Linked DNA regions of Homo sapiens. The gene in region 1 interacts genetically with each later gene. Each region holds a gene or a part of one and is shown on either strand. Other genes may lie near its edges.

Region 1 (5,065 bases):
TATTTGTATTATGTTTACGTACATAGTTTACCGTACATACCATGTTGACATATATATTATCAACTTATTCCTAGGTCATACTATTCCATTGTATGCTTACTTTATGCCAGGACACTGTGCTGGTCACTGAGGTACACAAAGATGAAAGGATAGAGTCCTTTTCTTTGAGGTGCTCACAGCCCGGTGAAGAAGACAGATGTCACAAGGGAAGGAAACATGAGGAACAAGAGAAACTCCTAAGTCTCTCAAAAAGAGCTAACTTCCCAGAGGAAATGAGGAGCAGAAACCTGAAGAGAGTGGGAAGCTGGAGAGGGTATCCAGGCAGAAGAAATAGCATGTGCAAAAGCTCGGAAATGTAAAAAAAAGAAAAAGAAAAAGCTCATGTTAGGCTGGTTGTTGTTAGAGTGTAGGTTGCATGGGGAGAATGGCTAGAGGAGTAGGTTTTGCCAGGCTGAGAGGTTTAAATATCCTTGAAAGAACCCTGTATGAAGGCAGGATAGATATTGTTATTCTCATTTTCAGGTGAGGAAACTTAGGTTCAGGTCCCATATGGAGTAAGTGGCAGGTATGGTATTAGAACTCAGTTCTGATTCTCTGTCCACTCCACTGCAAGGTAGATGCTTATTAGTTGCATTAGTGTGAATGACAAGTTCTGAAGGTGTGATATTGGAAGGCTCACAGGTGAAGTGGGCAGAGAGAGACTTAGGACTTGCTTTCTGTGAACCGTGTGTTCTCCTTTCCCTGCCCTGAACTCCAGGTGCAGCAGTTCCTGCGGCAAGCCCAGCGGGGGACAGAGGAAAAGGAGAGAGAGGGGGCTCTGGTCAGCCTTCGTCGAGGCTTGCAGCACCCTGAAACACAGCAAACCTTCATCCGGTCAGTGTGGATGGTGTGGTGGAGGGAGGAGTTGGGGCTCTGAGGGATGGACCACAAGCTAAGCAGGGCTCTGGTACTCACTCACATAGGCTGGAGGGCAGCATGCGGACCCTGGTCGGGCTCCTGACCAGCAACCAGGCCCTGCTGCAGCTTGAGGCGGCTCGGTGCCTGCATGAGCTCTCTCACTCCGAGCAGTCCACTGTTGCTGAGGCCTGCCTGCCAGCCACTTCTTACCTCCTCACCTACCTCTCCAGTCACAGCTCAGACTTCATAGTAAGCCCTGTCCCTTCCTATCTTGTTCTTGGTTTAGATTTTAAAATTGTGCTTTTGGGACCAGTTTGAGCTGGCAGGTAGGAGGAAGAAAACATGTTTGCCCTTATGCCTACAGCCATGGCTACACCCATCATCTCCCCACCCTCTTGTGAGCCGCAAGGATAGCTGCTCCAGCGTCCCCATCACCTCCCCTCCCCATCTCCCCACACGCAGCCTGGCATGAAACAGGCCAAGCCCAGTGCTTTTGTTGCCTGTTCTCAGGAGCTGTGTCTGTATACACTGGGTAACCTGATCGTGGAGAGTGAGGCTGTGAGAAGGCAGCTCCTGCCACAGGGCATTGTTCCAGCCTTGGCTGCCTGCATCCAGGTGACTCCTTTCTTCCTCCCTGGGCAACCCTTCCTTTGCTCCTCCCCACATGCTCCATCTACTTTGGTTAGGTAGCTCCAGCCTCTGCCCTGTGCCAAGGGGCTGAAAGTCTCTGAAGACCTGATGACCCAGCTTCCAGTCAGATCCTTACCCTGTCTACTTCCAGTCCCCCCATGTGGCTGTGCTGGAAGCTCTCGGATATGCCTTGTCCCAGCTTCTACAGGCTGAGGAAGCTCCAGAGAAGATCATTCCGTGAGTAAAATTGTCTTTAGATGTGCAGCCAGAGGTGACCCACTCAGTAGTATAGCTCCCGGATGCCTGAATGATTTCCAAAGCTGTTGCACATTTTAAATTCATGTGTCTGGCTAGGAAGGGCTTTGGGTTTGGACACTTTCCCATCTGGGCAGGGCTTTGGGTTTGGACACTCTCCCACCTGCTATCAGGGTTTGGTAAGAACCACTGGCATCTTCGTGGTTCCTACTTACAGCCCTGCTTCTGCCAGCAGCTCCATCTTGGCCTCCACTCTCCCTCAGCACATGCTACAAATGTTGCAACCTGGCCCAAAGCTCAACCCTGGGGTCGCTGTGGAGTTTGCCTGGTGCCTTCATTACATCATCTGCAGGTAACAGGGCAATTGGGAAAGTACCACAGATCTTCCCTGGGGCTCCCTTCCATGACATTCAACTCTTTGAACTTGTGTCTGGAATTGCTATAGTGAGTTTTCCTCCCTCCACTGTCTTCTCTTTTTGGAGCCCAGGAGACCCACAGACCTTAGCTGTTTCTCTTTTTTTTTGAGACAGTCTCACTCTGTCACCCAGGCTGGATGGAGTACAGTGGTGCGATCTCAGCTCACTGCAACCTCTGCCTCCCGGGTTCAAGCGATTCTCCTGCCTCAGCCTCCTGAGTAGCTGAGACTACAGATGCGTGCCACTATGCCCGGCTAATTTTTGTATTTCTAATAGAGACGGAGTTTCGCCATGTTGGCCAGGCTGGTCTCAAACTCCTGACCTCAGGTGATCCACCCACCTCAGCCTCCCAAAGTGCTGGGATTACAGGCATAAGCCACCACGCCTAGGCAACTGCTTCTCTTCTTAAAGGTGGAATTGACTATATACCTAGGGACTGCTTGCTTCCTGTTGCCCAGCCAGGTCAGCAATCCTCTGCTCATTGGCCATGGGGCTCTGTCTACTCTGGGGTTGCTGCTGTTGGACTTGGCTGGGGCTGTCCAGAAAACCGAGGATGCAGGACTGGAGCTGGTAGGTGAAGATGTCAGGTGAAATTCTGGGAGATGTTTCTTGATACTCTGGAATGCAGGTAACCTCTTCCTTCTTACACCTGACCCCCCAATTTGTCTTTGCAGCTGGCATGCCCCGTGCTTCGATGTCTAAGCAACCTGCTAACTGAGGCAGCAGTGGAGACTGTGGGAGGGCAAATGCAGCTCAGAGATGAGCGTGTTGTGGCAGCCTTATTTATCCTTCTGCAGTTCTTTTTCCAGAAACAGCCCAGTCTGCTCCCTGAGGGCCTTTGGCTCCTCAACAACCTCACTGGTACGCACCATAATCTGCCCAGGCCTGGACATTTGGATAATGGGGATATTTCCTCATGGCCTAGGCTGAGGTGGGTAGTATTGACAGGGGTGGTGGGGGAAAGCAGTTTTTCACCCTGGTACTTCTCTTCCAGCAAACAGTCCTAGTTTCTGTACCTCCTTGCTCTCCCTGGATCTGATTGAGCCTCTCTTACAGCTGTTGCCAGTATCTAACGTGGTGAGCGTAATGGTATGTATTGGGGTTACTTGAATCCAAGATCTGGTAGTCGGATTGTATGGGACAGCAGTCCTGAGCCCTCAGATGTACCCTTAGTTGAGAGCCAGCAGGTGGTGGTGTGTGGCCTCAGGGCCCAACCAATCTAGGTGTGTGTCCCTTAAACTGGATTATTTATCCTTGGACAAATCAACTAACCACCTTAAGCTTCAGTCTCCTCACTTATAACTGAGGATAATCTTGCATCATAGGGTAGTTGTAGGAGTATGAGAACATGTATGTAGAAGAGCTTGGCATGGTGCCTGGGCATGTGGTCACCATGTCATATATTTTAGCTATTGTTATGATCTTTGTGTTTCATTCTTTGTAGACTATATATGTGTCTATCTGCAGGTGCTCACAGTTCTGTGCAATGTTGCAGAAAAGGGTCCTGCTTACTGCCAGCGGCTGTGGCCAGGGCCCCTGCTTCCCGCCTTGCTGCACACACTAGCCTTTTCTGACACTGAAGTAGTAGGCCAGAGTTTGGAGCTGCTGCATCTGCTGTTCCTGTATCAGCCAGAGGTATAGGTTTCTGGCCCACATCCTCAGTCACCCCTGTTCTGAAGCCACACAGTGGCTCCCTTCCCATCCAGTCCTAACTATAGTTGTTTCTCTGGGCCTGGCTAACCTATATAGGTTCCATGTCAGAAACTTCATCCTCTTGTTGGGGAATGCACCCTCTGGAGTAGGCTGACCCATGAGGCTGTGGGAATTGAGTCTTAGGACACAGAGACCAGGTGTGTTGAATTTTCTTCCCTGCCCCTAGGCTGTTCAGGTCTTCCTGCAGCAGTCAGGGCTGCAAGCCCTGGAAAGGCATCAGGAAGAGGCCCAGCTCCAGGATCGTGTGTATGCTCTCCAGCAGACAGCTCTTCAAGGGTGATCTTGTTTCTCAATGTCACTCATTCCCCTCTCTCTTAACATCAAGCTTGTTTGTCCAGTAGAGCCTTTGGAGATTTAGGACCATAATGAGGTCTCATGTTCTCTGCTCCCACACCTAAGCCAAGACCTTTGGGTCCCAGCTCCTCCCCTTCCACTCAGCACTATCCAGGCAGGAGGACCAAAAGGGACTCAGTGTGGTCTACTTACTCTGGGGCCCTAGAATCCCTGCCCCCCCGCCACCCTTCATGTTTGCTTCAGCAGCTGGTAGCTTTTGATGAGACAGAATAAAGTTTTATTTTTATATTAAGCTACTTTGCCTCAGTGGTTGCACAGTAAGGGGTAGAGGGTAGATGAGGACAAGAACACCCTGAGAAAGTATTTTACAGCACAAGCTTTATGAGGAATAGGAGAACACATTTTTTTCACATTATACTAAGTCCAGCAGAGCCCAGGCTCTGGGGCTGTTGCTCTTAATCCTCAGTGGAGGCTTCAGGCTTTACCACTTAGAACGTTCTCCAGGGCTCTGGTTACCTGATCAGCACTGAAGTTGTTCAAAGGGACATTCGTCTCTTGGCCAAATGCTGAAGAGAGAGAGGGAGGTGTCTTTAACTATTCTGCACCCTGGAGGCTACCAAAGTAAAATAAAAGATCTTTGTCTTTATCTTAGTCTTGTTAAGACAGGAAGAGTATTAAAGAGATATGATCAAAATACATTTGGTATGCCTAGAATTAATACAATAGGTCTCAAACACATCTAGGAAGCCCAAGTCCAAATAGAATTTTGGCTGATTCTGGATGGCCGCAATGGGTTGTTTCAGGGAAGCTTTCGGGGGCACTGTAGGCATTTATTATTAACTACGGTGAGCAATGTATTG
Region 2 (5,111 bases), on another chromosome or scaffold:
ATCTTGAACTCGGGAGGCAGAGGTTGCAGTGAGCCAAGATCGCACCACTGTACTCCAGCCTGGGCAACAGAGCGAGACTCTGTCTCGAAAAACAAAACACAAAACACATAACTCATCTCCTGGCCCTCCAGGATCCAGGGGTTTCCATGAAACCCTTCCTTAAGTCCTTAGCTCTCACTGCACTCCTTCCCAATTCTCCAGATTGACTGTCTCAGCCTCTGAGCCACTGCACTTACTGTTTCCTCTGCCTGGAAAACTACTCCCCAGCCTCCCACTTTATAATAATTTTCATCCTTGTCTCAGCTCCAACCTCACCTTCTCAAAGAGGCTTGGTCTGCCAGATTTTAAAAAACTGCACCCCGGGTCAGGCATGGTGGCTTACGCCTGTAATCCCAGCACTTCGGGATGCCAAGGCGGGCGGCTCACTTGAGGTCAGGAGTTTGAGACCAGCCTGGCCAACATGGCGAAACCCAGTCTCTGCTAAAAATACAAAAACTAGCCGGGTGTGGTGGCGGACGCCTGTAGTCCCAGCTACTCGGGAGGCTGAGGCAGGAGGATCGCTTGAACCCGGGAGGCGGAGGTTGCAGTGAGCCAAGATCGAGCCATTGCACTCCAGCCTGGGTGACAGAGAGACTCCATCTGAAAAAAAAAAAAAAAAAAGCAAACAAACTGCACCCGATTCTCACGTTGTCACAATGCTGTTGTAATTTTCTTCATGAAGCTGTTTTTCCAGGTCTTGCTTATTTTAGTTTATGATTGCTCCTCCCTGCAGTTGTCAGCTCTGGCAGGGTAGGATTTTTGTATTTTGCTCACTGCTGTGTCTTCAGCACCCAGATCAGTGCCTGGCATACAGTAGGTGCCCAGTAAATGGTGAGGCAAATGAAGGAATGAGCTCAACATGCTCTAGAAAGGGAAAGGCCGCCAGATTGCTGAAGCAGAGTGATCAAAGGGAAGAGGTGGCAGGGGCTAATTGCGTAGGGCTTTGCAGGCTGTTGAGGAGTTCAGTTTTACTAGGTACTGTGGGAGGCATTGGAGGATCCAGAGCAGGGGAGAGACATGACTTCATGTATGTTTTAAGATGGGCTCTTGGGCCAATCAGGTTGATCAGGTCGGGGAAGTTTGCAAGTTTGCAAATGGATTCTGCTTCACCTACTTTGCAGGAAAACTGACCTAGGAATTGCTTTATCTTGCAAAACGAGGCCCGGCAGGTGCTGGCCCAGTCCCAACCCCTGCCCTCTGCCCTGTGCTCTCTCCCCTCCAGGTCCCTGAGTGCCAGAGGTGGTGGTGTTGCTTATCTTCTGGAACCCCATGCAGCCAGATCCCAGGCCTAGCGGGGCTGGGGCCTGCTGCCGATTCCTGCCCCTGCAGTCACAGTGCCCTGAGGGGGCAGGGGACGCGGTGATGTACGCCTCCACTGAGTGCAAGGCGGAGGTGACGCCCTCCCAGCATGGCAACCGCACCTTCAGCTACACCCTGGAGGATCATACCAAGCAGGCCTTTGGCATCATGAACGAGCTGCGGCTCAGCCAGCAGCTGTGTGACGTCACACTGCAGGTCAAGTACCAGGATGCACCGGCCGCCCAGTTCATGGCCCACAAGGTGGTGCTGGCCTCATCCAGCCCTGTCTTCAAGGCCATGTTCACCAACGGGCTGCGGGAGCAGGGCATGGAGGTGGTGTCCATTGAGGGTATCCACCCCAAGGTCATGGAGCGCCTCATTGAATTCGCCTACACGGCCTCCATCTCCATGGGCGAGAAGTGTGTCCTCCACGTCATGAACGGTGCTGTCATGTACCAGATCGACAGCGTTGTCCGTGCCTGCAGTGACTTCCTGGTGCAGCAGCTGGACCCCAGCAATGCCATCGGCATCGCCAACTTCGCTGAGCAGATTGGCTGTGTGGAGTTGCACCAGCGTGCCCGGGAGTACATCTACATGCATTTTGGGGAGGTGAGCGGGGAAGTGGGGCTGGGGGCAGTGTCAGGAGAAGGACCAGGGATGGACGAGTGCTCATCACTGTCTCCCCTTGAGATGTCAAGGCAGGAAACTGGAGAAAAAGGAGGTTCTGGGCTGGGTATGGTGGTGTAGTCTCCACAGTTTGAGGGGCTGAGGCGGGGGGATTGCTTCAGGCCAAGAGTTCAAGACCAGCCCAGGCAACATAATGACACCCTGTCTCTAAACAAACAAACACACAAACAAAAAACAACTGGGGCCGGGCGTGGTGGCTCATGCCTGTAATCCCAACACTTTGGGAGGCCGAGGCAGGTGGATCACCTGAGGTAAGGAGTTCAAGACCAGCCTGGCCCACATAGCTAAAACCCATCTCTACTAAAAATATAAAAATTAGCCAGGCCTGGTGGCGGGCGCCTGTAGTCCCAGCTGCTCAGGAGGCTGAGGCAGGAGAATCGCTTGAACCAAGAGGTGGAGGTTGCAGTGAGTGGAGATCGAGCCACTGCACTCCAGCTTGCGCAACAGAGCAAGACTCAGTTTCAAAAAAAAAAAAAATTAAAAAACAACTGGGGTTCTGAGTTCCTTGTCTACACATGTGGGGAGACTGGTGAACAGCTGGGGAAGGTGAGGTCTTCATATGTCTCTGGGCTCCCTGGTTTCTCTGGGGTCAAAGTGGGGCAGAGTGCAGTGAACAGCAGCCAAATCCTAGGGTAGCCCAGCCTTTCGGGCAGTCAGCAAATGTTTATTGGACACCCGTGACAGGCTGCAAGCTGTAAGTCTGAACCTTAGTCATGTTTTCTTTGGTCCACACAATGTCCTTATACTGTTTTTGGTTTCGTTTTCACATTTCTCAGTGAAGGAAATTATCTATAGAAATTGACAAGAGAGGGCAGGGCCCAGTGGCTCACGCCTGTAATCCCAGCACTTTGGGAGGCTGAGGCGGGTGGCTCACCTGAGGTCAGGAGTTTGAGACCAGCCTGACCAATATGGTGAAACCCCATCTCTAATAAAAATACAAAAAAAGAAAACTAGCCGGGTGTAGTGGCATGTGACTATAGTCCCTGCTACTCGAGAGGCTGAGACAGGAGAATCGCTTGAACCGGGGAGGTGGAGGTTGCAGTGAGCCGAGATCGCACCATTGCACTCCAGCCTGGGCGACAGAGCAAGACTCTGTCTCAAAAAAAAAAAAAAAAAAGCCTGGGCGCGGTGGCTCATGCCTATAATCCCAGCACTTTGGAAGGCCAAGGTGGGCAGATCACCTGCGGTCGGGAGTTCAAGACCAGCCTGACCAACATGGAGAAACCACGTCTCTATTAAAAATGCAAAATTAGCCTGGCATGGTGGCTCATGCTTGTAATCCCAGCTACTCAGGAGGCTGAGGCAGGAGAATCGCTTGAACCCGGGAGGCGGAGGTTGCAGTGAGCTGAGATTGCGCCATTGCACTCCAGCCTGGGCAATAAGAGCGAAACTCTGTCTCAAAAAAAAAAGAAAAAGTTTTTGAAGAGATGAGGTCTTGCTCTGTCCCCAGGCTGGAATACAGTGGTGCCATCATAGCTCACTGTAGCCTCCAACTCTTGGGCTCAAGGAGGCCTCCTATCTCAGCCTCCTGAGTAGCTGGGACTATAGGTATGCAGCACCACGCATGGCTAATTTTTTAGTTTTTAAATTTTTTTGTAGAGACAGGGTCTTGCTATGTTGCTGAGACTGGTCTCGAACCTCCTGGCTTTGAACAATCCTCTGGCTTTGGCCTCCCGTAGTGTTGGGATTACAGGTATGAAGCACCATACCAACACCAGGCCAAGAAGTGTTTATTGAGCACTTGCTGTGGGCCAGCCCCTGTTCTAAGTGATTTATGTCCTTTGCATCATTGACTGTTCCCAACTGTCCTATGAGGCAGTACTACCCTTCAGCCTAGGCAAGCAGGGCAGTGCCCCAGGCCCTAAGCCTTCGGGAGTCCCATGTCTTGGTGTTCCTTCCTGGAAATTTTCTAAGTCCCCCACTGGCTGGTACCAGCTGGGATGGATGTTACACTGATCTCTATTTCTCTCCTTCAGGGATAGATTCTTTCCTACCCTCTATGTTACATGTGGGGTTGATCAGACGCCCCAGGGTTCTCTGGCGTTAGTCCTAGGGCCTGCAGCTTCTAGGAAAGTGGTCTATACAGTAGGAGAAACATATACAGTGTTTCTTTCTTGTGTTTGTATGAACATGGGGTACTAGATTAAAACTGATTACATAGACGAGTGCCTGACAACTTTTTTTTTTTTTTTTGAGACGGAGTCTCACTCTGTCACCCAGGCTGGCATGCAGTGGCACTGTATCGGCTCACTGCAACCTCCATCTCCTGGGTTCAAGCAATTCTCCTGCCTCAGCCTCCCAAGTAGCTGGGATTACAGGTGCCTACCACTATGCCCAGCTAATTTTTAAAAAATATTTTTAGTACAGATGGGGTTTCACCATGTTGGCCAGGCTGGTCTCGAACCCCTGAGCTCAGGTGATCTGCCTGCCTTGGCCTCCCTAACTGTGCTGGGATTACAGGCATGAGACACTGCGCCCACGCCCGCCCCCCACCGCCCAGTCCTTTTTTGTTTTTGAGACTGAGTCTGGCTCTATCGCCCAGGCTGAAGTGCAGTGGCAAGATTTCGGCTCACTGCAAGCCTCCATGTCCTGGGTTCAAGCGATTCTCATGCCTCAGCCTCCGAAGTAGCTGGGATTACAGGGGTGCACCACCACGCTGGCTAATTTTTGTATTTTTAGTAGAGACAGGGTTTCACCATGTTGGCCAGGCTGGTCTGGAACTCCTTACCTCACGTGATCCGCCCACCTCAGCCTCCCAAAGTGTTGGGATTACAGGCTTGAGCCACCACGCCAAGCCCCCTTTTTTTTTTTTTTGGGGGTGGGGGACAGAGTCTCACTCTGTCATCAGGCTGGAGTATAGTGGCATGATCTCGGCTCACTGCAACCTCCGCCTCTCGGGTTCAAGTGATTCTCATTCCTCAGCCTCCCAAGTAGCTGGGATTATAGGCATGTGTCACCATGCCCAGATAATTTTTGTATTTTTTGTAGAGATGGGGTTTCACCATGTTGGTCAGGCTGGTCTTGAACTCCTGACCTCAAGTGATCCGCCCGACTTGGCATCCCAAAGTGCTGGGATTACGTGTGTG

The links. Genes that interact genetically often act in the same process or in processes that back each other up.
Region 2: changes in TMCO6 (region 1) and KEAP1 together harm fitness more than expected from each alone (negative genetic interaction), as found in Homo sapiens cells (one large-scale study listed by BioGRID).

The regions. Positions count from the first base shown.
Region 1 is NC_000005.10:140,640,908-140,645,972, forward strand, and holds the end of TMCO6 (transmembrane and coiled-coil domain-containing protein 6), read left to right. Parts: intron 1-757; coding exon 758-873; intron 874-962; coding exon 963-1,146; intron 1,147-1,407; coding exon 1,408-1,512; intron 1,513-1,583; exon of another isoform or gene 1,584-1,678; coding exon 1,679-1,764; intron 1,765-1,999; coding exon of another isoform or gene 2,000-2,017; coding exon 2,018-2,134; intron 2,135-2,656; coding exon 2,657-2,768; intron 2,769-2,872; coding exon 2,873-3,059; intron 3,060-3,192; coding exon 3,193-3,287; intron 3,288-3,665; coding exon 3,666-3,833; intron 3,834-4,077; coding exon 4,078-4,191; 3' UTR 4,192-4,497; downstream 4,498-5,065. Other genes in the region: NDUFA2 (NADH dehydrogenase [ubiquinone] 1 alpha subcomplex subunit 2), read right to left, coding at 4,680-4,771.
Region 2 is NC_000019.10:10,496,231-10,501,341, reverse strand, and holds part of KEAP1 (kelch-like ECH-associated protein 1), read left to right. Parts: intron 1-1,261; 5' UTR 1,262-1,308; coding exon 1,309-1,947; intron 1,948-5,111. UniProt on the Homo sapiens protein: Substrate-specific adapter of a BCR (BTB-CUL3-RBX1) E3 ubiquitin ligase complex that regulates the response to oxidative stress by targeting NFE2L2/NRF2 for ubiquitination.